4 linked regions of the Homo sapiens genome follow. The protein of the gene in region 3 purifies or fractionates together with the protein of the main gene of each other region. This does not show direct contact. Each region holds a gene or a part of one and is shown on either strand. Other genes may lie near its edges.

The links.
Region 1: the proteins of KLK15 (region 3) and ABHD3 purify together in Homo sapiens (affinity purification with mass spectrometry; 2 studies listed by BioGRID and IntAct, with this or other methods). This does not show direct contact.
Region 2: the proteins of KLK15 (region 3) and SMG7 purify together in Homo sapiens (affinity purification with mass spectrometry; 3 studies listed by BioGRID and IntAct, with this or other methods). This does not show direct contact.
Region 4: the proteins of KLK15 (region 3) and SLC25A20 purify together in Homo sapiens (affinity purification with mass spectrometry; 2 studies listed by BioGRID and IntAct, with this or other methods). This does not show direct contact.

Annotation. Positions count from the first base shown.
Region 1 is NC_000018.10:21,701,631-21,709,402, reverse strand, and holds the start of ABHD3 (phospholipase ABHD3), read left to right. Parts: upstream 1-4,628; 5' UTR 4,629-4,737; coding exon 4,738-4,899; intron 4,900-5,655; coding exon 5,656-5,819; intron 5,820-6,904; coding exon 6,905-7,087; intron 7,088-7,772. UniProt on the Homo sapiens protein: Phospholipase that may play a role in phospholipids remodeling. May selectively cleave myristate (C14)-containing phosphatidylcholines through its predominant phospholipase 1 activity, cleaving preferentially acyl groups in sn1 position.
Region 2 is NC_000001.11:183,524,314-183,531,512, reverse strand, and holds part of SMG7 (nonsense-mediated mRNA decay factor SMG7), read right to left. Parts: intron 4,918-7,199; coding exon 4,746-4,917; intron 3,801-4,745; exon of another isoform or gene 3,782-3,800; intron 3,558-3,781; coding exon 3,486-3,557; intron 2,622-3,485; coding exon 2,471-2,621; intron 2,116-2,470; coding exon 1,980-2,115; intron 1-1,979. UniProt on the Homo sapiens protein: Plays a role in nonsense-mediated mRNA decay. Recruits UPF1 to cytoplasmic mRNA decay bodies.
Region 3 is NC_000019.10:50,830,394-50,838,259, reverse strand, and holds the start of KLK15 (kallikrein-15 isoform 4 preproprotein), read left to right. Parts: upstream 1-4,685; 5' UTR 4,686-4,733; intron 4,734-6,736; 5' UTR 6,737-6,767; coding exon 6,768-6,810; intron 6,811-6,966; exon of another isoform or gene 6,967-7,161; intron 7,162-7,695; exon of another isoform or gene 7,696-7,730; intron 7,731-7,866. UniProt on the Homo sapiens protein: Protease whose physiological substrate is not yet known.
Region 4 is NC_000003.12:48,895,701-48,903,532, forward strand, and holds the start of SLC25A20 (mitochondrial carnitine/acylcarnitine carrier protein), read right to left. Parts: upstream 3,183-7,832; 5' UTR 3,095-3,182; coding exon 2,990-3,094; intron 1-2,989. UniProt on the Homo sapiens protein: Mediates the electroneutral exchange of acylcarnitines (O-acyl-(R)-carnitine or L-acylcarnitine) of different acyl chain lengths (ranging from O-acetyl-(R)-carnitine to long-chain O-acyl-(R)-carnitines) with free carnitine ((R)-carnitine or L-carnitine) across the mitochondrial inner membrane, via a ping-pong mechanism.

The sequences.
Region 1 (7,772 bases), on a different chromosome or scaffold from region 3:
CCAAAAACCATGCAGTGTAGCCGAGAGAGAGCAGGAGTATTGTCATCACAGGACCAGCACCACGACTTTTTTTTTTTTTTTTTTTTTGAGACAGTCTCGCTCTTTCGCCCAGGCCGTAGTGCAGTGGCGTTATCTGGGCTCACTGCAAGCTCCACCTCCTGGGTTCAGGCCATTCTCCTGCCTCAGCCTCCTGAGTAGCTGAGACCACAGGCACCCGCCACTGCACCCAGCTAATTTTTTTTGTATTTTTAGCAGAGACGGGGTTTCACCGTGTTAGCCAGGATTGTCTCGATCTCCTGACCTCGTGATCCGCCCGCCTCGGCCTCCCAAAGTGCTGGGATTACAGGCGTGAGCCACCGCGCCCGGCCTCGCCACGACTTTTAAAGGCATTGTTCCCAACTTCTAAGCCTTGTTCTCTGGCCCTTCTGGAGTTTCATCAGCTATCACATACCATTGTAATAAATTTCCTTTCTGCATATGGTAAGCCCAAATTGACTTTTGCTGTTTGCTACTAAGAACCCTGTGTACCTGCTGCATCTGGAACCATCCCCAGACACCACACTTTTTGTAATGTAACTGCTTACTCCTCTGTTGCCACACTAGACTCTAAGTATTATTATGATTGGATCCTCAGTGCCCTGTAATCACCCAAGAAGACACTGATTGAATGAATGAATTAAACTTTCTGAGCTCTCATTTCCTCATGTATAAATTGGGAATAACAGTTACTTGGTTTTTTGGGTTTTTTCAGGCAGTTTCCCTCTGTCGCCCAGGCTGGAGTGCAGTGGCATGCTCTTGGCTCACTGGAATCTCCGCCTTCCCGGGTTCAAGCAATTCTCCTGTCTCGGCCTCCTGAGTAGCTGGGATTACAAGCACCCACCACCATGCCCAGCTAATTTTCTTGTATTTTTAGGAGAGATGCGGTTTCACGATGTTGGTCAAGCTGGTCTCGAACTCCTGACCTCAAGTGACTCAACTGCATCGGCCTCCCAAAGTGCTGGGATTACAGGCGTGAGCCACTATGCCCAGCCAAAATAGTAGTTCTAAAGAAAGATGGAGAATGTTTTTCTAACAGGAAATAAACTTGGACAACCTCCATCTCAATCATCTCATTTTACAGACAAGGAACTGAGGCCCCCAAAGAGTAAATGATTTGCCTAAGTTTGGTGGATAAGTTCAGAGCTGTTTTTTACTCCTAGGTCAGTACATTTTCTACACACCATGATGGCCATAAAATATTATAGGCATCAATGTTTGTATCCCCCGCCTCCACCTTCACATGTTGGAGCCCTAGCCCCTCAAGGTGATGGTATTAGGAGGCACGGCTTTTGGGATGTAGTTAGGTTTAGGCGAGATAATGAGGACAGGGTCCCTATGATGGAATTGGTGCCTCTAAAAGAGGAGGAAGAGACATCAGAGCTTCCTGAGAAGCCATCTGCAAGGCAAAAGAGGGCCCTCACCAAAACCCAACCACATCGGTACCCTGATCTCAAACTTCCAGCCTCTAGAACAGTGAGAAATACATGTATGTTTAAGTCACCTAGGCTATGGTATTTTGTTATAATGCCCAAGCTCAGACAAACATTTTATTCGATAATACTTTCACTTTAAACTTAAACTGGGCCAGGCACAGTGGCTCATGCCTGTAATCCCCGTGTGTCCAGAATTAGTGGGTTCTTGGTCTCACTGACTTCAAGAATGAAGCCGCGGACCATCGCAGTGAGTGTTACAGTTCTTAAAAGAGGGGCGTCCAGAGTTGGTTCCTTCTGATCTTCGGATGTGTTTGGAGTTTCTTCCTTCTGGTGGGTTCGTGGTCTCCCTGGCTCAGGAGGGAAGCTGCAAACCTTCGCAGTGAGTGTTATAGCTCATAAAGACAGCGTGGACCCAAAGAATGAGCAGCAGCAAGATTTACTGCAAAGAGCAAAAGGACAAAGCTTCCACAACGTGGAAGGCGACCCCAGTAGGTTGCCTCTGCTGGCTCGGGCAGCCTGCTTTTATTCCCTTATCGGCCCCACCCACATCCTGCTGATTGGCCCATTTTACAGAGAGCTGCCTGGTCTGTTTTACAGAGAGCTGACTGGTCCGTTTTGACAGGGTGGTGATTGGTACATTTACAATCGCTGAGCTAGACACAAAATTTCTCCAAGTCCCCACAGAGCACTGATTGGTGCATTTACAAACCTTGAGCTAGACACAGGGTGCTGATTAGTGTGTTTACAAACCTTGAGCTAGACACAGAGTGCTGACTGGTGTATTTACAATCCCTTAGCTAGACATAAAGATTCTCCAAGTCCCCACCAGATTAGCTAGATACAGAGTGCTGATTGGTGCATTTACAAACCTTGAGCTAGACACTGAGTGCTGATTGGTGTATTTACAATCCCTTAGCTAGACATAAAGGTTCTCCAAGTCCCCACTAGACTCAGGAGCCCAGCTGGCTTCACCTAGTGGATCCCACAGGGGAGCCGCAGCTGCCCACCAGTACTGCCCCGTCAGCCCCACACTCCTCAGCCCTTGGGCGGTGGATGGAACCCGGCTTGGCAGAGCAGGGGGCAGCGCTCGTGGGGGAGGCTTGCCCCGCAGGAGCCCACAGTGGGGCGGGGGGTGCGGCTCAGGCATGGCGGGCTGCAGGTCCTGAGCCCTGCCCCGTGGGGAGGCAGCTGAGGCCCAGCAAGAATTCCAGTGCAGCGCTGGCGGGCTGGCACTGCTGGTGGACCCGGGGCACCCTCCACAGCTGCTGGTCTGGGTGCTAAGCCCCTCACTGGCCAGGGCCGGCGGTGCCAGCCGGCGCTCAGAGTGCAGGGCCCGCCGAGCCCACACCCACCCGGAACTCCCGCTGGCCCGTGATCGCGGGGCACAGCAGCCCCGGTTCCCGCCCACGCCTCTCTCTCCACACCTCCCTGCAAGCAGAGGGAGCTGGCTCCGGCCTCAGCCAGCCCAGAGAGGGGCTCCCACAGTGCAGCAGCGGGCTGAAGGGCTCCTCAAACGCGGCCAGAGTGGATGCCCTGGCCTGAGGAGGTGCTGAGAGCGAGCGAGGGCTGCTAGCACGTTGTCACCTCTCACCAGCACTTTGGGAGGCCGAGGCGAGTGGATCAGGAGTTCCAGACCAGCCTGGTCAACATGGTGAAACCCTGTCTCTACTGAAAATACAAGATTAGCTGGGTGTGGTTGTGCATGCCTGTAATCCCAGGTACTCGGGAGGCTGAGGCAGGAGAATCACGTGAACCCGGGAGGTGGAGGTTGCAGTGACCCGAGATCTCGCCATTGCACTCCAGCCTGGGCAACAAGAGCAAAACTCTGTCTCAAAAAACAAAACAAAACAAAACAGAACAAACTTAAACTGAAATACGCATGCATTTATTGGTAGGTAGTGCAGAAGGCTGGTGCAGGGGTTATGAAGAATGCTATGAAGTTTCAAGTATGGCAACCAGCATATGCATTCACGTTTGCTATGTGTGCTCAGGTGTGAGAGCCAGAGCGTGAAAATTACTTCTGCTCACGGGGAGTCCAGTATATACACTATCTTGTCCTCTCGGGAACTCTATAAAGTAGAAATTGTTACGCTACAGATTATTAAAACAAGAAAAAAACAGGCTCAGTAAAGGTAATTGAATTATTTTGGGTGCTGCAGCCAACCACCAAGTTGCAATGACCAAATCGGAGCCAAATAAATTGCTCACTTCTGGTCCGTCTCATGTCCCCATCTAAATTACATCATTAATTTACAATCCTTTGGCATTTTTCATAATCTAGACAGCACTTTCCCTTCTTTCGTCTGTTTAAGTCTTGCCATTCTTCCTACCTCTCTGAGGAAGGAGTTCATAAGAGTAGGAATAGGCTATTAAATTCTAACCATTTCAGATAACCATAAGTATCCTGATTTATCATATTGCCATAAATAAGCCTAGGAGACCCTACTTCATAAATGGTTTCTTGTCTGTACATTAGGTAATCGGTGTGAATTTCCATAAGTCTCTAAATTCAAAGCATTAATGAACCACAAATAGGCTTTTAACAATTGAATCCCGGTTGCTATTCTTGACCTTTTCATTTATTTTCAGAGACCACTTCTCATTTAAGTGACACTTAGCAACTAAAAAGATTCACAGAGTGATTCAGAGTCGAGTATGATGTCCTCACTGTTGAATGCTCATAGAATATTTTTTCTCTTTCCATAGTCTTGAGGACCAACGCAAACGTCTAGAGGATGTGGGATTCTTACCTGCTAACATATCTTTGGCATTAACTCCCCAAATCTTTGAATGCAAGGCACGCTTACCTGACACCCTAAACTGCTAGTTTAGGGACACCCGCCGCAGAGCGGAATCGTTCAAGGTCACTGGGGCTGCAGGTGCGGGGCCTTAACCAGCGCTGCCGATCCGTCAGCTCTCGGCCCACCCTTGGGGATCCCCATCGCCCACTGCGACCTAGCTGGGAGAACCCAGTCCGCCCGCCCTCCCGGTGGCCGGTCTTGGAACCGCGCTTCTGGAAGGTTCCTGAGTGGCTGGCAGTGGGGGCGGCTCCAGGAAGCCGGGGCGGAGCGGGCGGCGTTGGAGTCTCGGGCTACGCCTCCCTGGGCCGCTCCGCCCCGCCCGTTGTCGGAAGCCGCGCTCCGCCAGGCAGGAGACACTGTGGTCGGGAGTAGGCAGCGGCGCCGCGTCCGCTCTCGCCCGCTCTCGCCCGCTCGCCAGCCGGCTCTCCTCCCGCCGCAGGACCCGCGCGCCGCGCTCGGGGGCCATGCAGCGCCTGGCCATGGACCTGCGGATGTTGTCCCGGGAGCTCTCCCTCTACCTGGAACACCAAGTCCGGGTGGGGTTCTTCGGCTCGGGGGTGGGCTTATCCCTTATCCTGGGCTTCAGCGTCGCTTATGCCTTCTACTACCTGAGCAGCATTGCCAAGGTGAGCCGGGGGTGGCGCAGGGCCGCGGGCTGCTGGGCCAGGAGCTAGGGTAGCAGGCGCGGCGCGAGGCTGCGCGGCCAGGGGCGGTCGGCAGCCCCGGGGATAGGCGGCGAGCTGCTCCCGAGCGGCAGCCCCCAGCGCGCGCGGGAAAGCCAACAGGCCCCGCCCGTTCGCCCGCCCCCTGGGGGTCCCGGCCGGGTGGTCCTCGGAGCGCAGCCTGAACCCGGCTGACTTCTGCGCTGCGGCGCTGCCCGGTCACCGATCGCGAAGCCGGCGGCGCACTCGGGAACGCCGTGGCGCTTTTGAAAATGACTCCGGGCAGGGCACGGTGGCTCACGCCTGTAATCTCAGCACTTTGGGAGCCCGAGGCGGGTGGATCACCTGAGGTCAAGAGTTCGAGACCAGCCTGACCAAAATGGTGAAACCCCGTTACAATTACAAAAAATTAGCCGGGCGTGGTGGCGGACGCCTGCAATCCCAGCTACTCGGGAGGCTGAGGCAGGAGAATCCCCTGAACCCGGGAGGCGGAGTTAAAAACAAACAAACTCCCTTATCGCGATTCTCGCCTTCCCCTCGGGGCATTGGCGAAACCCCCGTTTCAGTCCTCTGTGACTGTGAATTTTTTGCGTCAGCCCTCCAGAAAGAGTTGTAATCGGAGGAAGCGCGCGCGCGAGCGACAAGTCTTTGCCGGTTTCTGGTTTACGGTTGGCAGAAACTTTGCTCTGGGCCCTTCTCTGATACTGCTTTTCCCTTCAGAAACCCCAGTTAGTGACCGGGGGTGAGAGTTTCAGCCGCTTCCTTCAAGACCACTGTCCCGTGGTTACAGAAACGTACTACCCGACGGTCTGGTGCTGGGAGGGTCGAGGACAGACCCTGCTTAGACCTTTCATCACTTCGAAGCCCCCGGTGCAGTACAGGAAGTAAGTGAATTTCCGTTTTCAGTCATTTCTGCAAAATCACAGGTTGTTTGTTTGCTTGCTTGCTTATTCCCAGTTCTTGGTTAATAGAATCTGCTTTAGGAAGTATATAGAACAGAAAGAGGGAATGAAAATGGAAGGTACGTCCCCGGCTCCACCCCCAGCTGCAGGAAAATACCCCAGCTGCAGGTATTTGCCTCCTGGTCCCCGCCCTAACCGCCAACCTGATGTAAATGGTTTATTTTTAGGATGAGAGAAGTGTTTGGGGATTACTGTCTCGCAGTTTGTCATACATCTGTCAGAAAGACCCAGATCTTTTGATGATCTGCATTCATTCATTGATAAGTAGCAGATACTGGGGGGGGGGGTGGGGTGAGAAGGATGCCACTTAATTTGGGTTTTGGGCGATTTATTGGTGTAAAATGACTTCCTATTGACAGGCAAATGGGATCTTGATGATAATAGCTCTTGATGTGTTAAAGATACGGTCCAGGATTTATCAGGAACCAGATTTAAATGGTGCCTGTTATTAATTTCCCTTAGTCATCTATCCTTCTGGAGTTTATTTTGTTGCCTGGAACTTGCACTGTTTGTTTGGGAAAATTCTGTAAGTTCATGAATACTATGTGAGAAATAATTTAAATTATTTCAGAAGAAAATCTTGAAGTATACTATACAAGGAGACTGCATTATTGAGTCCAAAGAGCTAGAGCAGTGGTCAGAGATTAGATCAGCATTTTACTTACTCAGACTTCCCTGTCGCATTAGTTGAGTGACCTCAATCAAACAAGGGTTAAATGCTGGATGTTTTGGAGTAATGAGTAAGTATTCATTTATCTTAATAATTAGCAGTTCATTTTTATATACGACCTTGTACGGAGGTTGCTGGAAATACTTGATGGTACTAATCTTCATAAAATCCTTCTAATGAAAGAAAATGATATGTAGATCGAGATATGGGTGTGTGTTCGTGAATGCTGGAAAAATGTTATTTTTTGATGAGCAAATAATGTCATGTGTTTAGAATTAAAATTAAGACATGACTTAAAACATGTAAATAGTAATGTCTTCTGAATTATTCCTTTCAGTGAACTTATTAAAACTGCAGATGGAGGACAGATTTCACTGGACTGGTTTGATAATGATAACAGTACGTGTTATATGGATGCCAGCACCAGACCTACTATCTTATTGTTGCCTGGCCTCACGGGAACAAGCAAGGAGTCATATATCCTTCATATGATCCATCTTAGTGAAGAATTAGGATACAGGTACCAGTAAAAGATTTCTTTTTTTTCACTTGATCCATTCCAAATGAAGTACAAATATATCTACATGTTTGTTTCAGAAATACTTAGTACTTCTTGCATAGAAAAGCAGTCCCTTAAATTATTATTTTTCTCTGCATTCTTTTTTTCCTCTTTCTTTTCAGGAAGATGCATAACTGAATCATCTCACAAGAAATGTCACTTAGCATAGTAGACACTCTGCAGATTTAGGCTGAGTTAATGAATGAAATTAGAATCATCTGAGCATTGACTGAGCCCTTCCCCCCATCCCCACCCCAATGGAGAGTGTGTTATGGAGGGAGAACAGCAATTACAGACCCCTGAGAGAGTACACAGTGGCCGTCATGCCACATTCTGGGGCCTGGATTCACTAATCTTGTCGCCCTGGCTCAGCTCCCAAGTGCAAAAAATATTCAGAATCAGCTTGTAGGTTGTCCCTATTTATCAAAGGTGATCTCTGCCTCTTCTGACCACCTGAGTTTGCAGGTGCACTTGGCTAGTCTCCAGTTGTTGATGCCACAGCTTTTCTGAGTAACCATTATTAAGCTCAGTCACCAGGTACAATTTAATTTTTTGCAAGTGATTAGCAACTTTGAGTTTCAAGTTCAGCTCTAGAATCTTAGAGTCATTATAAAAGGTACTGCTTTTTTGTGCCTCAGCTTTTTTT
Region 2 (7,199 bases), on a different chromosome or scaffold from region 3:
CCTATCCATTCAGAAATAAGGTTGAAGTTATTCAGTTGTAATTTCCTAAAATTTAGATTATATTGTAGAGAGTCTTCCAAGGAATAAAGTCAGATTAGAACTGATAAGATTTTTGCTACTCAAACTTTCAACTACAGTTGAGAAATATACTGAAATAAATACCATTAACAAACAGCCCACATTTAACTTACAGAAAATGTATTACATCTCAATTCCCAGATCCCAGGCCTTAAATCCCTTAGTGGACCTCAACTTGGTAAACATTTCTGCTTAGTAGCTAAAGGTTGTTAGAAACACTGAAGTATACATGTTGATGATACTAATTATCTACATATGCTTTAGAAATACTTTGGAAATTTTACTCCACTATGTTAAAATTTCACTCCAGCAATGTTCTAGTTCAACACTGGGTAAGCTTTCAAATAGATCTGCCTCATACTATGTTTTATGTTTAACTTTAGAGTGCTGGAATGATACTTCAAAGTATATTTTAGAAACTGCCCACCCACACTTACCAGAACTTCACATACAGAAATATATATGTGAAGAGAGTGTTAGTGTTTGAGGTTGAACCAAATGCAAAACTTACTAGGTTTTTAGACTAGAATAACTTAGTTAGTGAAGATCTCATTAAGGTAGGGACCACCCACCACCACCAATTTAGAGAGTATTTCACAGAACCAGAGCTGGAAGCAATCTCAAGAAGTTTTCTAGTCCAATCCCCTATTTAGTAGGACTGCACTTAAATAATCCAAGAAAGATGGCTGTCAATCTGACTGTTAAGCTCTCCAAAATGGAGAATCCACAACATCCCACGGTCAGCCCCCTATAGATTTCAACTTAAAATTTAAGATTTTAGTTTTGACTTCAGGAAAGATACAGGTATGTTCTTTTCAAATAATCCTTCACATGTCTGAATACTTACTATGAAAACTATTTAGACTTGTTTGTTCTTTTCCAGGCTGAACAGCCTAGGACATGACAAAGTTAGCTGTTCCTTTCACACACCCAACCTTATACATCATATGTCACAGGCTAAGTATATTTTAAAACAAAACAAACTATTGCTATTTATAATTATCTATTCTAATATCTTGCACATAGAAAGTATCAACCAAAAAGCGATTACCTGTAAAAACTATTTCGCATTGACTATTTTTGGCTAAGTGACACCTTAACTGTCCAAGTTCTACAATCTCTTAAAATGCCTGACTTATAAAGAACTTACAGAAATACTATGAAGCAGTTATACACAATTACCCAAGTATATAGATACCTAGAAATAACCAAGAAATATAAAATGTTCTTTGAAATTGTCATTTACTGTTTAACACAGTGCCTAAAACAATGACCGATGAGTAGTCAAATATTTATTTGAATACATGAACTGAAAAAAAGTTAATACTTTTGACTTTCTCCTTATTTTATGCATTATACATTTAAACTGCTAATATCTTAACATACTAATAAAAGATCATTTTCACATATATAAATAGAATGAAGGTTAATGTTATCTCTTCAAATTAGTAAAATATATCCCTGTTAAATGAAACTCTCATTCCTTTCATTCAAACTACCACAATCCTGATGAATGCAAGCACAATAAAAATAATGAACTTGGTTTGGAGAATGCCAATATCTATAAAGCAGGTAACATAATCATATCTAAGAATACACAAACCATCAAAAGTAGTAGTAGTTTCAAAACTGAGGAGTTATTTATTTTTTTCCACTTTGATAATTTTTGTCAAATGGCAACTACTCAAGTGAAAACACTGCTATATTATATTTGTTTATACAGACTGTACCTCAGTTTAAATTGAAGGGATGATAAATGCAAAGATTTCACATACTTCGAATATAATTTTTACCAATAGTTCACACAGTTAAGTAACTACAAAAACTGGGAGTCAGTTTCCTCCAAATGTTATGCTTCCTGATTTAGACAAGACAAAAATTCTCTATTTCTGAAATCTAACCTTAAACTGTTCTTCCAATTTCTCTCGAAGAGGGCTCAACTTTTCCAAGCTCTTACTCAGGTACACATGACCGTGGAATTTAATAAAGGCCTTGATGAAGTCAGAAACACCCCACTTGGTTTTCACCTCATCTCGGCTGAAATGAAAGAAAAAAATTCCATGAATCATAAGCAGCAAATTGGCTACAACTGTTTAAGGAGGCACTGGCTTGCTAAATACTTGATACACAAAAGAGCTGTATTTGACTGATTTTTCAACTGCAACACACTCAAGATGAGTCAGTATTAACAGCCTGTGTACTCTTTTACTGGGACTGAATCAGATATTGATTGGATGAAATTCAGTGACTATACACAAATTATGAAAAATCTATATGTTTAGAAATAAGAGAAGCATAGGCCGTTATTTTCTGTAAACCAAATTATGAGGAATTAAGGCTCCAGGTTACAAAGTCCTCTTGGAAAGAGAAAAAAAAAACCAAACAACCCTACCTTTCCAGTGCTTTAGAAAGTGCTTTTTGCAGATTAGTGGAGGCAGCTGGGAAAGGGAACTTCACAGCAATGCTTCTGCAGTAGTAGAAAATTGTGGTCAGATGGTCTCCTTTGGAAGAAGCTAAGATAGCCAACTGATTATAAGGCTGACCTACAGGAGAAAGTTAAGATTCTGGAGTAACCCCAAGAGTGACAAAGTCTTGCTATAAGAATACAAATGATCAGTGTTTAAATACTCAAACAATGGGGAGTATTTTTATAAGGTAAATATGACTGCCTCATTGCAAACCAGCGTAAGGTCCAACAGCACACTTCAGCGACAGTACACACTATCATATACAGGTTAAACAGTCAATATTAGGGTAGAGAGCGGCTTCAGCAAGGGCTAGATTATAAATAATTTCAGTTTTGTAGGCCAAAGGGTCTCTATCACAACCACTCAACTCTGCCACTGTAGTGTGAAAGCAGCCATAAACAAATATGAAACAAGTAGTGTGGTCAGACTATCATCCCTGCTTTAGACTCTTTCTAGAATCTAAAGGAATTTCAACGTCTTAGTAAGAATGATTTAAATAATTAAATATCTGCTGTAATTTCTGTAACTCAAGAACTACTGCTAATGCCTAGTTTGGGGCCATTAAAAGATTATCTTTTAGGTAATAGATTGTTTTTCTGGGGGGAGGGGAATGGTGGTATCTAAAGAAATAATTATTCTATAAGCAATTAAGGAAGCCAGAGTTGTAGAAACAATATCAGATTACATTAAGAGATTCTATCTATATTGCTTTACTGACAATAATAAATAATAAAATAAAATAAATAATAAAAGTCATCTTACTTGTAAAAAAAATTCATTTTAGTTTACATGGAATGTACAGTTAAATGGAAAAACATGACAATAACAAAACTCATTTATTGCTTTCATAAAACTTCAAAGGTGAGCCCTGAGTTATCTGCCACATTGTTATAAAGAACAAAGTGTCACGGTCAATCTCAGGTTGACAGGTCCACTCACCATTGGAGGGGACAAGCTGAGCTGCATGCCTATAGTAGGACTCTGCCTGGCTGGTCTGGTTTCTGTATCGAGCTAAGAAGAAGAAAATTAGTTTTAAAAAACCCAAAAAACAAACAGTAGGGTAGTATTTCCAAAACAGCTATAGTTTTAAGTTCTAAAGATAATAAAGACATTAAAGTTAATTTAAAATTAAAGACAAAATACTTTAAAACAAATTAACTATAGGATTATGTGTGAAGTGTCCATCAGCCTTCCTTATTTGGGACATTCAGCATGTAACCAATTTTAAAGCTTACCTAGACCCCATTTTCAGGTCCTCCAGTGTCATGCATCACCAGCTCCCACTATGGACTATGCTGGTGACCTGGAGCCGGCCCACAAGAAGGGGTGAGTTATATGGCACTTAAAAACAAAACAAAACAAAATACACTATACAATATGATCTGAAAATTATGTATTTTTCAATATTTTATAAAGTGATTTTGAAAAATGTCTCATTCCTATTGCAATATTAAATATGTGTGTGCAAAGATTATATTTAAAGCAAAACAACCTAAACACAGTATCAATGAATCTCCCTGCCAAACTCACTGCTTACTCTGATGTGACCTCCTCATGGAACCGCTGACTTACAATATTAAGAAATCTAAAATTTCAAACTTAAAAGCAGTAATGTTCTCCATTCTTTGTTATTTGAGGACAAGCAAAACATAATCCTATAGTTAATTTGTTTTACAACCTTTCTAGGTCACCTTAAAGGAATGAACAAGAATAAATAAGTTATATAATATTCCCAGATAAAATGCAAATAATAGAAATACAAATTAAACTTTAAAAAGGAAGCAAAATTAAAAATCAACTTTTAGTCCATTGGTAAGAAAGAAAGAAGGCAATTTCGCTTCAGGAGTAATTTATAAACCTCATTTATTCCAGAAGAGTACATTTAATTTAGAAATTATGGCACCACTTTGAAAAATTAAGCTTTGATTATGTTTTTGCTGTTTATTATTTGCCTATATAAATTACATAAAGTTGGAATAAAATTTAAATCTTAATATGAAAGTTACTTTCTTCACGATGCTCTGCCAATCCCAAAAATATTGAGAAATTTTAAGTTCCTTAGAATACATTTTATAGTTTCTTCTTATGACAATCTAAATTGTGTGTGTATGCTCCGCTTAAAGGAAAACAGTTTCTTTCTATGACTATTCCAAAGAAAAGGAGGAACATATTATCAATTCCTTCACAGCAAAGGCTCACCAATGTCTCCAAGGTGGACGAGGCAGTGCTGGCAGATATAGGAACAGGAGCTAGACTGTGGCTTCACTATGGCGCTGGTATGCGTCTGTTTATTGCTGATAATTCCCAATTGGGAAGACTTCACACGGCATGGTAAATCTACATTAAATACTGTACACAGTTCTTGTAATAACTAAAAGAAAAACAAACAAAATTTAGTAGTAAGTCACAAGTGCTCTAAAAGTAAAGTTTATAAACTGTAAGATGTGTACCTAGTACCACATACTGCTGAAATCTGAACAAAAACTGCATGAAAATTATATGGTAATCTTTCGGGCCTGGCACAGGGGCTCACGCCTATAATCCCAGCACTTTAGGAGGCCAAGGCGGGCGGATCACTTGAGCTCAGGAGTTTGAGACCAGCCTGGCCAACATGATGAAACCCCGTCTCTACTAAAAATACAAAAAAAAAATCAGCCGGGAGTGGTGGTGAGCACCTGTAGTCTCAGCTACAAGGGAGGCTGAGGCACAAGAATCGCTTGAACCCAGGAGGCGGAGGTTGCAGTGAGCCGAGATCACGCCACTGCACTCCAGCCTGGGTGAGAGAGCAAGACTGTCTCCAAAAAAAAAAATATATATATATATATATATTATACGTTAATCTTTCACAGGATAACTAGTATCATTCATTATAAATCATACCTTTTGAATTCTCAAGTATTACAGCAATCTAGGATGTGCATACAGCAGCATTTTAAAAAAAGATTATTTAACTGGATAGGATTTTCAGACACGATTTTCAGACACATTAAGCAAGCAAAGAAAGCTACTACTCTCAGAAACCCAAAAATTATTAAATATTGGTTACAAATTTGACTTAAATGTAAGCCAAGGTATTTGTCAGACTTTAGGTATTTCTTGCAATTTATTTTCTTAAGCTGTATGCCAATTCACATGTCTTTGCATATACAACGAATCTCACCGTAGTGTACACCTTTACTGTATCACCCATTCCTACCTCCTCTCTTCTCTGTTCTTAAAGTATGAGGGGCTCTTCTTCCTAGTCAGAGCTAACTCTTCTGCCTATGTGTGCCTATTGCTACATTCTTTTCTGGTTCCTGTCTGTCTCCCACCTCTCCATTCTTTCATCTACTGTCAACTTTTCATGCTTCTTTCCTATGGCCTACACACCACGTCTCCCACAGAAAAAAACAAGAACAAAAAACAAAACAGAGCTAAAACACTCTCCTCTTGACTTTATAGCAACCTTTTAATGTCTCTCCTTCTTCTCAACCAAATGCCTTCAAAGGAGTCCACACTTTTCATATCTGCTTTCTCAATTTCTATTTACTCCTTAATCCATTATCATCTGGCTTCCACACAACCCCTCTCCCTCCTCTCACCCAACCATCCATTACCACTCTACTGAAACTACTATCAGACAATTGGTTACCTAATAGCCAAATACAACGGATATTTTTCAGACATCATCTTATTGGACCTCTTTGCTGCACTTAAAACATCTGATCTTATGGTTGATTACTGAGCTGTTCTAGTTCTCTGTCATCTCTCCAATCACTCCTTTTCAGTCTCCTTCATAGAAAGGCTTTTCTCCTCTCACTTTGCTTGCCAAGGGCTTATTTCTTGCCCCGCACACAGTTCTTCACACTGTGAAGAATATTTACTTCACAGTTATTCAAATATTTACTTACAAATATCGTCATTCAAATATTATTATATTCATCCAAGTATGTGCTAGTATATCAGACACCCAGTAAACAAGAAAGATACAAAGACAAGTAAGAAAATATGTTTCCTTCATGAGCTTGTAGCTAAATGGGCAAGTCAGGTACAAAAAGAGAAGTAGAGGGGAGAGAGGGAGGGAGAGGGAAAAGGGAAAGGAGAGAAGGACAGACAACATGACACACAATATAACCAACAGAATATTCTACATTTATAACGTAACTTATTTCCCTAGGTTATCTGATAAATTTGTCTCACTTTATCCTTGTGATAAACTAGTAGCAACACAGTATACATAGATATAAAGCTCAATTTTTTTCAGATGAGGATGTGAAGGCAGAAATAATCAAGCGACTGGACTAAGGTTATAGAATTAGAAATATTTTGATTCTATCACCACTCTTTCTAGCATGTACAGAATTCAAAATACAAAATAAGACACCCTAAGGGCTCAACTCAGAAGGATCTGAATCATGCCACCTTTTTCCTAAGATAAAAATCACCTCCATAACTAAATATAAATTCTGCGCACCCTTTCTCACTGGGCATGGAAATTATTTACTCCATCTTTACTTGTACATTTGTAATGGGCAAGAAATTCACTAACATAAAATTGGGTAAACAAGGCCAGGCATGGTAGCTCATGCCTGTAATCCCAACACTTTGGGAGGTCAAGGCGGAAGGATCACTTGAGGTCAGGAGTTCAAGACCAGCCTGGACAGCAAAGCAAGA
Region 3 (7,866 bases):
CAGGGATTCAGAAAAAGATACCACATCTGGGAGATCAAAACAGTGGCTTCTGGCTGGGCGCGGTGGCTCACGCCTGTAATCCTAACACTTTGGGAGGCCAAGGCAGGTGGATCACTTGAGGTCAGGAGTTCAAGACCAGCCTGGCCAACACTGTGAAACCCCAACTCTACTAAAAATACAAAAATTAGCCGGCTGTGCTGGTGGGTGCCTGTAATCCCAGCTACTCAGGAGGCTGAGGCAGGAGAATCGCTTGAACCCAGGAGGCGGAGGTTGCAGTGAGCCAAGATCATGCCATTGCACTCCAGCCTGGACAACAAGAGCGAGACTCCGTCTCAAAAAAAAAAAAAAACAAAAAACAGAAAACAAAACAAAACAAAAAGCACAGTGGCTTCTTCCAGTGCCAAATCTGCTGCTACCCAACTGTGTCATCTGAGAAAGACCCCACATAACCATCCCTCCCCAGCTTTCAGTTCCCAAGGGTAATAGGACAGACTGATAATGGCCCAGCACTCACTCAGTGCCGGGCACAGATTTCAAGAATGAACACCTCAAAACACTCCCACAGAAGAGGGAGGAGCAATTATTACCCCCACTTTATAGTTGAGGCAGCTGAGGCACAGAGAGGCTAAGTGACTTGCCTGAGGGTGCACAGTATTATGGGACAGAGGCAGAACTCAAACCCGGGCCACCTGGCTCCAGCGGCTACATCTGAATCACGTGCCGTGTTAACCGGTCTTGCAAGCCTCAGCCTGATTTTATGATTCGCACACCTGCTCCATGGGTATGACCTCATCCAACCCCTGTGAGGTCCCTCCCATTTCCACCCCACCGCAACGGAAGACCCCTTCGCAGATGAGCACCTGACACCCAGAGAGCTGATGCTTCTCACAAGGGGCACCAGGACCCCGAGAACCATTCTCTTGATTCCACTTCTGCAGCCTGGGTGACCTTCACCAGTGACCCCCGCACTCCCGTCTGCTCATGTGTTAAATGAATGAATCGTCATAATTTACTATATGCTCTGAGCTCCTAACACAAACTAAGTCGTTACTCCTCGAAAAACTCTACGAGGGGATCCTCTGATTTTAAGGATAAGAAACTGAGACACAGAGAAGAAAAAACTCTTACCAGGGTCTCCCAAAATAGTAAGTAGTGGAACAGAGATCTGCACCCATGCTGTCTGGATCCAGACCCAGCGCCCTGAAACAGCAGCTTGTCTGGTTCCAGAAGGAACGGAGGCCGTGGTGAGACTAAGTTAGAAGAGGGCCAGCACCTCATGGGGAGGCCCTTCGGGCACCACGAGTCCAGTCCCGCTCCGGAGGTGGGCAGTCTGCAGGCCCCCTGAGAAGGGGGTTTGAGGGGAGGCTTTTTCCTGCTGGGGAATCTCAAAGGGCTTAAAACTGCAGACCGAGAAGCCGGGACCTTGCCCAGGGGTGATGGGGAGCTGCAAGGGAAGGCTGTGAGCAGGGGAGGGGCGGGGTGATCTCCAAGTGCAGAGAGACCCTCTAGGGCCACGTGGTGACCGACAGGAGGCTGTCCTCCCGGACAGGAGGAGCGAGGGTCCAGAGAGAGAGGAGGACGTCTGAGCTGGAGCCAGGCCAAGGGGACAGAGAGGAGGGGACGGGGCAGAGAGAGGCAGGGGCCGAAGGGACAAGGCTGGGGACCGATGGGCTGTAGGGGATAAGGGGAGAGATGGGGCAAGGTCAGTGCCAAGGGCGTCTGGCCGAATAACTGGGTGGTCGGTGACGCTGCCCCTGAGATGAAGAACGTGGAAGAACAGGGAAGGAGGGTTTGGGGAAATAGAGCAATGAGTTGGGACTCGGTAAGTGAGAGGGGCCTAGGGACAGTGGTGCAGGGGGCGCCCAGGAGCAGGTGGCTGCCCAAGCCGGAGTTCAGGGTCAGATGGAGGAGACCTGCGTGGTTGGTGGATGAACCACGGGAGTTGATGAAAAACTCCCAGGGAACGTTCTCAGGAGGAGGAGCCGGGCAAAAGTGAGACTCAGGCCGCGGTGGGCGGGACCCAGGCCGCGGTGGAGGTGAAGGACGTCCGCGGACACGTCCAGGAGGACATCGATCGCGCGAGCCTGAGCCAGACACAGTGGGCGGGGACGGGGCGCCGACGTCACCGCGTGGGGGCGGGGCTGCGGGAGCCGCTGGCTGCGCGCCCTCCAGGGAGCCGAGCGCAGACCGGGTGCGCGCCTGGGTTCGGCGCGGCGGGAGCGCCCTCAGTGTCCCCGTCTGTATCAGGGGTGCTTCATCAGTACCTGCCTAGGCTGGTTAGGAGGAGGAGCACGTGCGATCGTGACGGGAAGCGCTCAGCACAGACCTGGCACCGAGGAAGTCCCAGGGGCTCGGCTCCTTTCCCTCGTCACCACCGCGCCCCAACAGAGGGAGGCGGCTGCAGGGGTGGCGGCGAAAGGGCCCACCGGGCGTTCCGGAGTCGGAACACTGATTCCTCTCCCGCGTGGCCTCTCGCTTCTGCAGGAACCTTGCTTGTGCTGCCTCCTGTCTGGGCCTCAGTTTCCTCCGTATTCAGCAGGAAGCCATAAGGTTATTAATATAAACACCTCACAGGGCTGCCGGGAGCCGGAGTGAGATCCTACAAAGAGAGCACTTGGCACGGAGGAGTGGCCTGCAGCCGCATTCCATAAACAGGGCTGCTCAGCTGAAGCGGTGGCCCAGGGTGAGGCCCGCAGACTTTGAGCATCAATTTGTGGGGAGGGAGGCAAAGGGACATAGGAGTTCTAGAATAGCTTCCAACCTGGGGATCTATTATGTCTGCCGGTCTGGGCTTGTAGAATGTCTGGAGACCCGACGTTCTAGAATGCATGAGGTTTCTGGGGACTCCAGAGTGCCCGATGTTCGAAGGTTCTAGAGTGTTTGGAGCTCTGTGGTTCTAGGCTATTCTAAAATCTTACCTTCCAGAGTGTCCTCCACTGCCAGAATGTCTTAGGGCCTGTGCTTTTAGAATCTGAAAGTCTGATATTCTAGAAATTCCAGGGGCCTGTAGTTCTAGAATGGCTGAATCCTTCCCATAAAGATGATGACTTTCCACACATGGGGAGAGACCACGCTTACAACAGGTCCCATCCTTCACTGGGTGACCTGAGTGAGGTCAGTCCCTCCTGTCTTGGGACCTCCTCATTAATTAAGCCAAAATAGACTCTAGATAATTGCTTGGGGCCCTCTGGGGTTCTGAGACATTGGAAGCCAGCCTCAAATACCCAAAGCCTTGGGTCATCTCAGTGATCATCTCCAGCCTCTGGGATGCAGAATCCAGATTTCAAGCTCTAGAACCCAGAAATAAGACTACAGGACCAGAATAGAGACCCTGGGTTCCCAGACTCTAAATTCAGACTCTAGAGTCAAGATTCTAGCAATCTCAGAATCGTGAAAGCCAGGTCCCTGTCTCTCAATTCAGCCTTTTAAAAATTTATTTACTTATTTATTTATTTATTTAGATTTTTCATAGAGATGAGGTATTGCTGTGTTGCCCAGGCTGGTCTCAAACCCTTCAGTTCCAGCAATCCTCCTACCTCAGCCTCCCAAAGGCATGAGTCACTGGGCCCAGCCACAGTCCAGGTTTTCAATGCAAAAACAGATTTGAAACTCCAGACTGTATGTTCCAAAGTCTACTCCTGAAAGCTCAGAGGCTAGATCCACCCTGTAGAATCCAGACCCCAAGCCTGGCATGGTGTCTCACGCCTGTAATCCCAGCACTTTAGGAGGCTGAGTCAGGTGGATCACTTGAGATGAGGAGTTCGACACCAGCCTGGCCAACATGGTGAAACCCTGTCTCTACTAAAAATATAAAAATTAGCTGGGCGTGGTGGTGGTCGCCTGTAATCCCAGCTACTCAGGAGGCTGAGGCAGGAGAATCTATTGAGCCCAGGAAGTGGAGGTTGCAGTGATCTGAGATCACGCTATTGCACTCCAGCCTGGGTGACAAGAGCGAAACTTCATCTCAGAAAAAAAAAAAAAAAGAATCCAGACCCCACAATTCAAAATCCCAAATCTACCATTTGTAGTCTAGGCCCCAGGCTTCTCATAGCAGGTGCAAAGGTTTCCAGCCTCGATTGCCAGATTCCAAACACCAGATTCCAGGCTCCTATTGTGGGTTCTAGATTCGAATGCCCCGGGATCCAGAATCAAGGTTCACGATCTGTCACTCAAAGGCCCGACTCCAGGATCCAGATTCCAGACCCCCAGCCCAAGAACTCAGACTTTGAAATCCATATTCCAGACTGCAGGTCATTAATCTCCAACTCAAGATCCTCAAATCCAGAATCCAAGACCCAGATCCAGAACCAGATCCGGATCCAGAACCCGGGATCCAGAACTCTGCCCCAAGCCCAAGAACAGGGACTTTAGGATCCAGTTTCCACACTCCAGACCCCAAATTCCAGACTCTGTCTTTTGATCTCCTCCTAATTTCTGTTTTTGTCCTCCTGTCCCCTCCCCCTTGAGGAACTGCTCCTGGTGGAGAATTCCTCTTTGTGGACTCAGACAACAGCTTCAACCTAATAAATGCTCATTAGGCCAAGTCTCCCACCCCACCAGCAACCAAGGCGTCTCTGCCTGTAAACCTGACTCTCAGCCACCTCCCACCCCACCCTACACCACCACACCCCCAGACCCAGCTGGGACTGGGAGCTTATAAATTCAGGCATCCTGGTACCTGCTCCCTTCTGGCACCCAAGCTGCCCTAGATGCTGCTGGAGGATCTGGAGGAGGTGAGAGCTTTGAGACAAGACTGAGGGAGGGGCAAAGGGGAGATTCACTGTGCCCTGGTTTCAAGGGGAAACGTTGACCACGCTTGGAGAACTGAGTGTCAAGGGCATGGGTAGATCCACGTGTCCTTTACCAATGCCCCAAATTGAACCTGAACCAAGAAAATGTCCTGGAATGGCCAGAAGGAGCTGCAGTGGTGGGGAGGGAGGGGGATGGAGTGGATCAGGAGGACGTCCCTGAAGTACTTGTATCAGAGCCAAGAACGTGGTCAGGAGTGATCACGGGTTCAAGTCAGTTCAGCACAACCTCCCGGAGGCCTCCTGTGTACCAGGCCCCAGGTGGGGCAGTGCTGAGGTCACAGAAAGAACCTGACCTGAGCCCCATCTTCAAGACCCCCAGATGGAGAAAAGAACAGGCCAGACCTCAGCAAGTATGGGGCATCTGCGCTGTAATGGAGACAGAATGGGTGCTGTGGGATTCAGGGGAGACACCTGTTAGGTGTTGGGGCCTCCCAGAAGAGGTGGGGGCAGAGTGTCAGAGGACAAAGATGAATTTGGAAGATATGGGGAAGAAGGATTTCAATTCACCCTCAAAGCTTCCTGAGGCCTCCCGTGGGTCGGGCCCTGCAGTACTGGAGACCCAGAGTGGAGTCAGACCAGCTCCTCGGGGAGCTGCCAGTCTCGTAGGGGAGGCAGACACCACTGAGGGTCAGGGGAGGTCAGAGAAGGCCTCAAGGAGGAAGCGGGGCTGGAAGGGAATGGCGTTGGATATGCGGTGGGAGGAATAGCCTAAGCATGAAATGGCAGGAGGGAAAATGGCAGCACTGGCTGCGTCTAGGACAAGGTCATGGGAGACCCAGGGAGAGGGGCTGGAAGGGAAGAAGCCACTTTTGTCCTTGAAAGTGAGGCTGGAGCCAGGCAACTCATGCCTGTAATCCCAGCACTTTGGGAGGCTGAGGCGGGTGGATCACTAGAGGTCAGGAGTTCAAGACCAGCCTGGCCAACATGGTGAAACTCCGTCTCTACTAAAATTACAAAAATTAGCTGGGCGTGGTGGCACACACCTGTAATCCCAATTGCTTGGGAGGCTGAGGCAGGAGAATCTCTTGAACCCAGAAGGCAGAGGTTACAGTGAGCGGAGATCACGCCACTCCACTCCAACCTGGGCTACAGAGCCAGACTCCGTCTCAAAAAAAAAAAAAAAAAAGAAAAAAAAAGAAAGAAAGTGAATTTGAAGAGCTGGACTTTATCCTGGTGGTGCCAAGGATCCATGGAGGGTGGTGAGCAGGGGAGGGGCACAGCCAGCTCCAGATGTAGAAAGACCCTTTGGGGTCATGGCTGGAGGGCAAGCTGGTGGAGGGGACTGGACTGGAGGGGGACCCAAAAGGCCAGATAAGAGGGTTGAGATAGACCAGGCGCGGTGGCTCATGCCTGTAATCCCAGCACTTTGGGAGGCCGAGGTGGGTGGATCATGAAGTCAAGAGATTGAGGCCATCCTGGCTAACACGGTGAAACCCTGTCTCTACTTAAAAAAAAAAAATTTCCAAAAAATTAGCCGGGCACGGTGGTGGGCGCCTGTAGTCCCAGCTACTCGGGAGGCTGAGGCGGGAGAATGGTGTGAACCTGGGAGGTGGAGCTTGCAGTGAGCCGACATTGTGCCACTGCACTCCAGCCTGGGTGACAGAGTGAGACTCCGTCTCAAAAAAAAAAAAAAGTTGGGACAGGGGTCCTTGGTGATGATGGAGAGAGATCCAGGGGCTGGTAGCATGGTGCTGGAGGCTGACAGGTGGAGGAGGTGGGGCAGGGTCTGTCCGAGTGCCTAGAGGAAGAGTAAACCTTCCAGAGATGGGGGACCCAGAAGGAAGCGCAGAGTGGGGTTGGGGGAAGGGGATACCGGTGGTCAGAAGAAATTTATTAACAGTGGATGGGATAAGTCTGTGTCTGGAGGGATCCTGGTGGAGGCAGAAGGGTCCTGCCTCACCTGGATTCTCTCACTCCCTCCCCAGACTGCAGCCGAACCCTGGTCCCTCCTCCACAATGTGGCTTCTCCTCACTCTCTCCTTCCTGCTGGCATCCACAGGTGAGGTGGCCCCAGGAGGGGGCCAGGTCTGTGGGAGCAGGTGCCCCCTTCCCAAGCATGTCTGGGCCCAGTGATCTGCCAGCCCCTACCTCACCCAGAGACCACTAAAGATCCTTCCTTCACCCTCCACCTGTGCCAATGTCCCTAAGCCCTTACCGTCAGGTGCTGGTGCTGCTGCTCTGGAGTCGCTATGTTGCCTGGGGCCTCTCGCTGCCCACGACAAGGAACACGGTCCTGGGGTTACACAAACCTGAGCTGAGTCCTGGGGCAACCGCTTCCTTGCTGTGTGTCCTTGAGGGAACTGCTTCACCTCTCTGGGCTTCGAATGCCTTCTCTATAAGACAGCACCCACTTGAGACAATAACAGTGAGGTCTCAATAGCATAACAGAGGTAATATACATAGCAAGCATTAGACAAGTGCTGAGAGGCCAACAGCACAGACAGACTCCAGCTTGAGTCCCACACCTGCCACTCCCTGTCTCTTACAGGGTCTTTGAGGGGATTAAATGTGGTTGTGTGTGAGGCAGAAGCATAAGCCTGGCCCAGGTAGTGCCCCTTCAGGTGTGCAAGCCAGGCACGGTGCTTAGAGCTTACATACAACGTCTATGTGTGGTGGGCACCACCGACCTCATTTGACAAGGGAAGGGGCTGTGGCTCAGAGGGACGGCCACAACATCAAGGTCACCTTGGGTGTCAGGCAAACTCCAGATTGAACTCAGCTGCCACACACCAAGAAATTAATTGTAACCTGATGCCTCTCTTCTGGAGAAATTGGGGGGTGGACTTTCATTAACGTTCTGCCACAAATGACCCTCACTCCTGGGGGCCCCTGAGACCCCCACGCCTCCAGCCTCCCCTCCGGCTCTCTCTGTGCACTCACCTACCTGCCTCGCGCCTGCCTGCTGCGCCCAGCTGGGGCCTCCACCTTCCTCTGGCTTGGACTGGCCAGGTGCAGCCTCGGTGCCCAGCTGTTCAGCCCGTACCCTCCGCCCTTCGGAGGACGACCTCACCCTTCCTTTGTTAAGCCCCTTGTCCACCACATCCGCATTCCCCTG
Region 4 (7,832 bases), on a different chromosome or scaffold from region 3:
CGTAAGTCTGAGGGGTTTATGGGACACAATAGAAATGCCCAGAGGCCACCATACCTTTACATCCAAAATCCCTCATATTGTCCTTCAGATCTCCCATAGTCAGGCATAACCTCCCCTAGTTAGTAGAGAGAGAGAAATGGATCAAAGCTTCTGACTAGACCAGGTACAGTGGCTCACACCTATAATCCCAGCACTTCAGGAGGCCAAGGCCGGAGGATCACTTGAGGCCACGAGTTTGAGACCAGCCTGCCCAACATGGAGAAACCCCATCTCTACTAAAAATACAAAAATTAGCCAGGCATGGTGGTGGGCACCTATAATCCCAGCTACTCAGGAGGCTGAGGCAAAAGAATTGCTTGAACTCGGGAGATGGAAGTTGCCATGAGCCAAGATCCTGCCACTGTACTCCAGCCTGGGTGACAGAGGGAGAGTCTTGTCTCAAAAAAAAAAAAAAAAAAAATTCTGACTAATACCTTGTTGTGATTTTTTTTTTCTTTTGAGACAGTGTCTCATTCTGTTGCCCAGAATGGAGTGCAAAGGCTCACTGCAGCCTCAAACTCCTAGGTTCAACCGATCCTCCAGCCTCAGCCGCCTGAGTAGCTGGGATTACAGATGTGCACCACCATGCCCAGCTAATTTTTGTATTTTTTATAGACATGAGGTCTTGCCATGTTGCCAAGGCTGCCTTTTTGTGATTTTATATACACTTCATACCTCATACCTGTCTCAACAGGATATCAGCCATCCAAACCAGCAAGAACATTAAAGTCCTTTGCAGGTGGTTTTTGTTTTGTTTTGTTTTGTTTTGTTTTGTTTTGTTTTGTTTTTGGGAAGGAGTCTCACTCTGTCACCCAGGCTGGAGTGCAATGGCACAATCTCAGCTCACTGCAACCTCCGCCCTGTGGGTTCAAGCGATTCTCCTGCCTCAGCCTCCCAATTAGCTGGGATTACAGGCACCTGCCACCACATGCAGCCAATTTTTTTTTTTTGTATTTTTAGTAGAGATGGGATTTCACCATGTTGGCCAGGCTGGTCTCGAACTCCTGACCTCAGGTGATCCACCTGCCTCAGCCTCCCAAAGTGCTGGGATTAACAGGCATGAGCCCACCGTGACCGGCCTAGGTTGTCTTATTTTATAATATGATCCCCACTTGCAAGCCACACTCACCTTCACTCCTGCCTTCCCATCAGACTGTCTGGGTCTCCCTACTCCTTCAGTCTGAACTCACCCAGCACTTGAATGCCTGTTCTAACGCACCACCTTCCATAGAGCCTTTTCATGACCCACTCTGAAGCGCTGCAGCTTTTGCCTTGTCAGGACACACAGCCCACAGCTCAGTTACACTATCTTGGACTTCTTTTTTTTCTTCTTCTCCTTTTTTTTTTTTTTTTTTAACCTTGGAACTCTGAAAGTACCTTAAGGTCAGGCTTTGATTGGAGCCCACCCAGCTCACTAAGGCCAAAAACACAGCAGTCAGCAATTTGTGGTTTTGGTTTAAGCTAAAAAGAGGCTTTCTGGTTGCTAAATATGCCAGTGAGCATTTCAGTTATTTGCACTTCAGTGCAGAGGTCATCCAGTCCTTCTTGGGAGTGACATCAAGGACAAAGGTGATATGGAGGTAGGAGCAATATTTGTGTGTGTGTGAATATATATATATATATATATATTTTTTTTTTTTTTTTTTTTAAGGGCGGCCCCAGAGGCCTAGAACTAATAAGATATCTGCCTATATGGACCAAGAGCAGGAAGAAAGGCCAGACAATCGTCCCTCAGTAGACAGTGCCGCTTGGAATGACCACAGTCTGGGAAGCACTAACACATGGCATTTACCACCAGCTAAATAAACATTTGATTTCATGTTGCACAATGACCTAGCCAGTCCAGCTACTTTAACCCTGGTCTTCCTATAGAATGACCCCAGTATGAGCTCTACTTCAGGGCAGCTCCTCTCTTGGATGAAAGGCAGCAAAGAGCTTGCTGCCCAAGCTGGCCAAGAGGAAGTGCCCACAAAACTATTTCGCTGTGGAAGAAATCTGACCCAACATCCTAACAAACCCCCTCACATGGGCTTCCAATCTTTTAAAACTCATGTCTGCTCCCCACAGGCCCACCCTGGCAATGACTTGTCAATTTCCTTCACGTCTACGTCTAGAAAAAAAGTGAGAAAACTGGATGCAGCTTCGAGTGCTAAGCCATGGGGGATGGACTTTGGTCCCCAAGCAAAGCATTAATGAAGGTGTTGCAAGGGGAATAGTTGAGATATGATATGAGGAAGACCAGAGAACAATTCCTGATGAACGTCCTCCCTCCCAAGCCTCAGTCTGACCATAGCTTCCTCATCTGGGAGTTGTGAGAATGAGGCTGGCCTTGTGCAAAGCTGATCACCTTGCTTTCCGTGGAAGGGGCTCGGTCACTGAGGTCATCATTGCTTCTCACAGGGATGCCTCTGCCCAGGAGGCTGAGCAGGCCACCGTTGGGTGACAGGCCGAAGAGTGTCAAGTATCTCCCCGGGCCGGGAAAGGTGCGAAAGAGATGGGTACTCTTGCCCCAGGGGAATGTATCAAAGGACACCTCCAGAACAACCGTACCGCTCTGTCTTTAGTTGTCTTCCTGGGGCAGGCTTTACAGGGGACCTGTTTCAACCTTAACGATAATATTAGTGTTGGCTGAAACCAAAACTATGGAGAGACGTTTATTCCTTCCCATCCCTAAAGAAGTGGCGCAGGGTCAGAAGAGACTGCGGGACAGGGAACTTTACATCAGAGCTCTTGACAGGCAGTTAGAGGCTGCTCACTTTGCGCCGCCGCCTGGCTCTTTGGGGCGCAAGGTACAGCTTCCTGCCCACCCCTGAAAGAGAGATTCCCTAGACTTCTCACGGAAGCTCACACATGCCCCTCTTCTGCCCAGCGTCCGCGCCTCGCGGGGGACCATGCTTTCCGCGCCCCGCCCGGGCCTCCTCCCCAAAGCCTGCGACCCAGCCTCCCGCACCTTGACCGTGTCCAGAGGGTGACCGACGAACACCAGGCACACGCCGCCAAAGCCGCCGGCCAGCAGGTTCTTGAGCGGGCTGATGGGTTTTGGCTGGTCGGCCATGGTCAGTCCGTCTGTCACTCCGTCTGTCAGTTCTCGGGCCGTCCTGGCTTCTCAGCCCCAGCTGCAGTGCCGGCGCCGCCGACCTTTCACCCACTTTTGGGTGGGCGGGGCACGAGCCCGGGGCAGGTCGGGAGGAGGGCCCAGTTGGCACGGTAGGGCTTCCGCCCGGGGCTGCTTCCGGCCTCGGCCCCGCTTCGATGGGCGTGGCAGAGCGCAAAGCCGCATGGGCGGGGTTTGGGAGTGTGGGCCAGCGGGCCTATTCCTCCAGGAAGCCTTCCCAGACTTCCATGTTTCCTCTGAGCTCCCATTCATCCACTCACTCCAGAGAGATCAATTGCGCCCTGCCATATGCCAGGCGTCCTTCTAGGTGCTGGAGGCACCCCTGGTAGTACAACACACAGGTCCCTGTCCTCCTGGAATTTACAGACCATAACAAAGATAAATAACTAAAAAATGCATAGTGTATCAAGTAGTAATAAGTACTACGGAGAAAAATCCAGGAAGAGAGTTAGAGGGTGTGTGGGACAAGTGATTTGCAATTTTAGTTCGTTGAATAAGGGAGGGTTTAACTGAAAAGGTGACAGGATTCAAGACCTGAGAAGATGAGAGAGGGAGTTCTGTTCACACATAACAGGGTCAAGGGTGAGGAACCTTCCACCCAGAAGAAAAAGAAAATGCAAAAGCCTTGAGATGGTCTGTGCCTGACATGTTTGAGAAACCACAGGAAGAGGGAGGGTAGTAGCTGATGAGGCGACAGAGGTTTTGGAGGCACTAGAAGACAGGTTTGGGCCTGGTGTTATGGCTCATGTCTGTAATCCCAGCTCTTTGGGAGGCCAAGGCGAGAGGATTGCTTAAACCCAGGAGTTTGAGACCAGCCTGACTTATATAGCGAGACTCTTGTCTCTAAAAAAAAAAAGTTAGGCCGGGCCCAGTGGCTCACACCTGTAATCCCAGCACTTTGGGAGGCCAAGGCAGGCATATCAACTGAGGTCAGGAGTTTGAGACCAGCCTGACCAACATGGAGAAACCCCGTCTCTACTAAAAATACAAAATTAGCGGGGCATGGTGGCGCATGCCTGTAATCCCAGCTACTTGGGAGGCTGAAGCAGGAGAATCACTTGAACTTGGGAGGCAGAGATTGCGGTGAGCCCAGATCGTGCCATTGCACTCCAGCCTGGGCAAAAAGAGCGAAACACTGTCTCTACAAAAAAAAAAAAAAAAAAAAAAAAAAAAAGTTAAAGGCCCGACGCAGTGGCTCATGCCTATAATCCCAGCACTTTGGAAGGCCAAGGCAGGTGGATCACCTGAGGTCAGGAGTTCAAGACCAGCCTGGCCAACATGGTCAAACCCCGTCTCTACTAAAAATACAAAAACTTGCCAGCCGTAATGGCAGACGCCTATGCCTGTGATCCCAGCTACTCGAGAGTCTAAGGCAGGAGAATCGCTTGAGCCCAGGAGGCGGAGCTTGCAGTGAACCGAGATCTTGCCACTGTCTCTCCTCTGAAGGACGTAGAAGTCATTGCAGGGTACTGAGTGGGGAGCGACATAGTCTGACATCGTTATCAGGATCCCCCTTTGATTGCTGGGTGAAAATAGACTCCAGGGGGCAAGAAGAAACAAGGAGCCTTAAGGAGGCTAAAAGCCATGGCCAGAGATGTTGACTTGCGCCAGGGCATAACAGAGGAGGTAGTAAGAAGTGGTCAGATTCGGCCGGGCGTGGTGGCTCACGCCTGTAATCCCAGCACTTTGGGAGGCCGAGGCGGGTGGATCTCAAGGTCAGGAAATCGAGACCATCCTGGCTAACATGGTGAAACCCCGTCTCTACTAAAAATACAAACAAAAAAATTAGCCGGGCATCATGGCGGGCATCGTGGCGGGCATCTGTAGTTCCAGCTACTCGGGAGGCTGAGGCAGGAGAATGGCGTGAACCTGGGAGGCGGAGGTTGCAGTGAGCTGAGATCGTGCCACTGCACTCCAGCCTGGGTGACTGAGCAAGACTCCGTCTCAAAAAAAAAAAAAAAAAAAAAAAAGAGGTGGCCAGATTCTGGATATAGTCTAAAGAAAAAAAAATTTTAAGTTGTCAATTAATAGGATATAAAGCAGCTAGGCACAGTGGTTCACGCCTGTAATCCCAGCACTTTGGGAGACCGAGGCATACAGATCATGAGGTCAGGAGATCGAGACCATCCTGGGTAACACAGTGAAACCCCTTCTCTACTAAAAACACAAAAAATTAGCCAGGTGTGATGGCACAGTGCTTGCAGTCCCACCTACTCAGGAGGCTAAGGCAGGAGAATCGCGTGAACCCGGGAGGTGGATTTTGCAGTTAGCCAAGATCACGCCACTGCACTCCAGCCTGGCAACAGAGTGAGACTCTTTCTCAAAAAAAAATAAAATAAATTAAAATAAATAAATAAATAAAAAGGATATAAAAAGGATATAAAGGGTGTCAAAGAAGATTTAAGATTATGGGGCCGGGGCTGGGCGCAGTGGTTCACGCCTGTAATCCCAGCACTTTGGGAGGCCGAGGTGGGCGGATCATGAGGTCAGGAGATCGAGACTATCCTGGCTAACACGGTGAAACCCCATCTCTACTAAAAATACAAAAACTTAGCCGGGCGTGGTGGCAGTAGCCTGTAGTCCCAGCTATTCAGGAGGCTGAGGCAGGAGAATGGCAAGAACCCAGGAGGTGGAGCTTGTAGGGAGCCGAGATCGCGCCACTGCACTCCAGCCTGGGCAACAGAGTGAGACTCCGTCTCAAAAAAAAAAAAAAAAGAAAAGAAAAAAAAAGAATTATGGGCCGGGCACAGTGGCTCACACCTGTAATCCCAACATTTTGGGAAGCCCAGGCAGGCGGATCATGAGGTCAAAGTTCGAGACCAGCCTGGCCACCATGGTGAAATGCTCTCTCTACTAAAAATACAAAAATTAGCTAGGCGTGCTGGCATGTACCTATAATCCCAACTGCTCAGGAGGCTGAGGCAGGAGAATCGTTTGAACCCAGGAGGCAGAAGTTGCAGTGAGCCGAGACCACGCCATTGCACTCCACCCTGGGTGACAGAGCAAAACTCCGTCTCAAAAAAAAAAAAACCACAAAAAAACAACTATATGCATTGGAGCAAATTTTTAGAAAGGGATTCATAAATGCCTTCACACAGGAAAAAATAGGCAATCAAGCATTCTCATTCGAATGAGGGGCCAGGCGCAGTGGCTCACACCTGTAATCCCAGCACTTTGGGAGGCCAAGGTGAGTGGATCGTGAGGTCGGGAGATCAAGACCATCCTGGCCAACATAATGAAACCCCATCTCTACTAAAAATACAAAAATTAGCTGGGCATGGTGGCATGTGCCTGTAATCCCAATACTAGGGAGGCTGAGGCAACAGAATCACTTGAACCAGGGAGTGGGAGGTGGCAGTGAGCTGAGATGGCACCACTGCACTCCAGCCTGGCCACAGAGCAAGACTCTGTCTCAATAATCATCATCATCATCATCAGGGCCAGGCACCATGGCTCATGCCTATAATCCCAGAAATTTGTGAGGTCGAGAGAGGCAGATCATTTGAGGTCGGGAGTTCAAGACCAGCCTGACCAACATGGTGAAACCCCATCTCTACTAAAAATACAAAAAAAATTATCTGGTGTGGTCGTGGGTGCCTGTAATCTTGGCTACAAGGGAGACTGAGGCAGGAGAATTGCTTGAACCCAGGAGGCAGAAATTGCAGTGAGCAGGGATCGCTGACAGAGTGAGACTCTGTCTCAAAAAGAAAAAAAGAATCAGAACACATTATATATATATACTTTTTTTTTTTGAGGCGGAGTCTTGCTCTGTGGCCCAGGCTGGAATGCAATGGTGTGATATTGGTTCACTGCAACCTCCACCTCCAGGGTACAAGCGATTCTCTTGCCTCAGCCTCATGAGTAGCTGGGATTACAGGCACCCGCCACCACACCTGGCTGATTTTTGTATTTTTAGTAGAGACAGGGTTGGCCAGGTGCAGTGGCTCACATCTGTAATCCCAGCACTTTGGGAGGCTGAGGCGGGTGGATCACCTGAGGTCAGGCGTTCAAGACCAGCCTGGCCATCATGGTGAAACCCCATCTCTGTTAAAAATACAAAAATTAGCTGAGCGTGGTGGTAGGCACCTGTTATCTTAGCTACTCGGGAGGCTGAGGCAGGAGAATTTCTACAACCCGGGAGGTGGAGGTTGCAGTGAGCCAAGATCGTGCCATTGCACTCCAGCCCAGGCAACAACATCAAGACTCCATCTCTGAAAAAAAAAAAAAAAGATATAAAAATTAGTCAGGTGTGATGGCAGGCACCTGTAGTCCCAGCTACTTGGGAGGTGAGGTATGAGAATTGCTTGAACCCAGGAGGCAGAGGTTGCAGTGGGCCAAGATCTTGCCACTGTACTCCCGCCTGGGTGACAGAGAGAGATTCTGTCTCAAAAAAAAAAAAAAAAAATTGATCCTCATACTCAGCCAAACTAGCATCCAAGCAGGAGGATGAAACAGTATCACTCAACTATGCAAACAGACACGTGGGAAGTTGGCTCATGCCTGTAATCCCAGCACTTTGGGAGGCCAAGGTGGGCGGATCACAAGGTCAGGAGATCGAGAACATCCTGGCTAACATGGTGAAACCCCGTCTCTACTAAAAATACAAAAACAAAATTAGCCGGGCATGGTGGTGGGCGTCTGTAGTCTCAGCTACTCGGGAGGCTGAGGTGGGAGAATG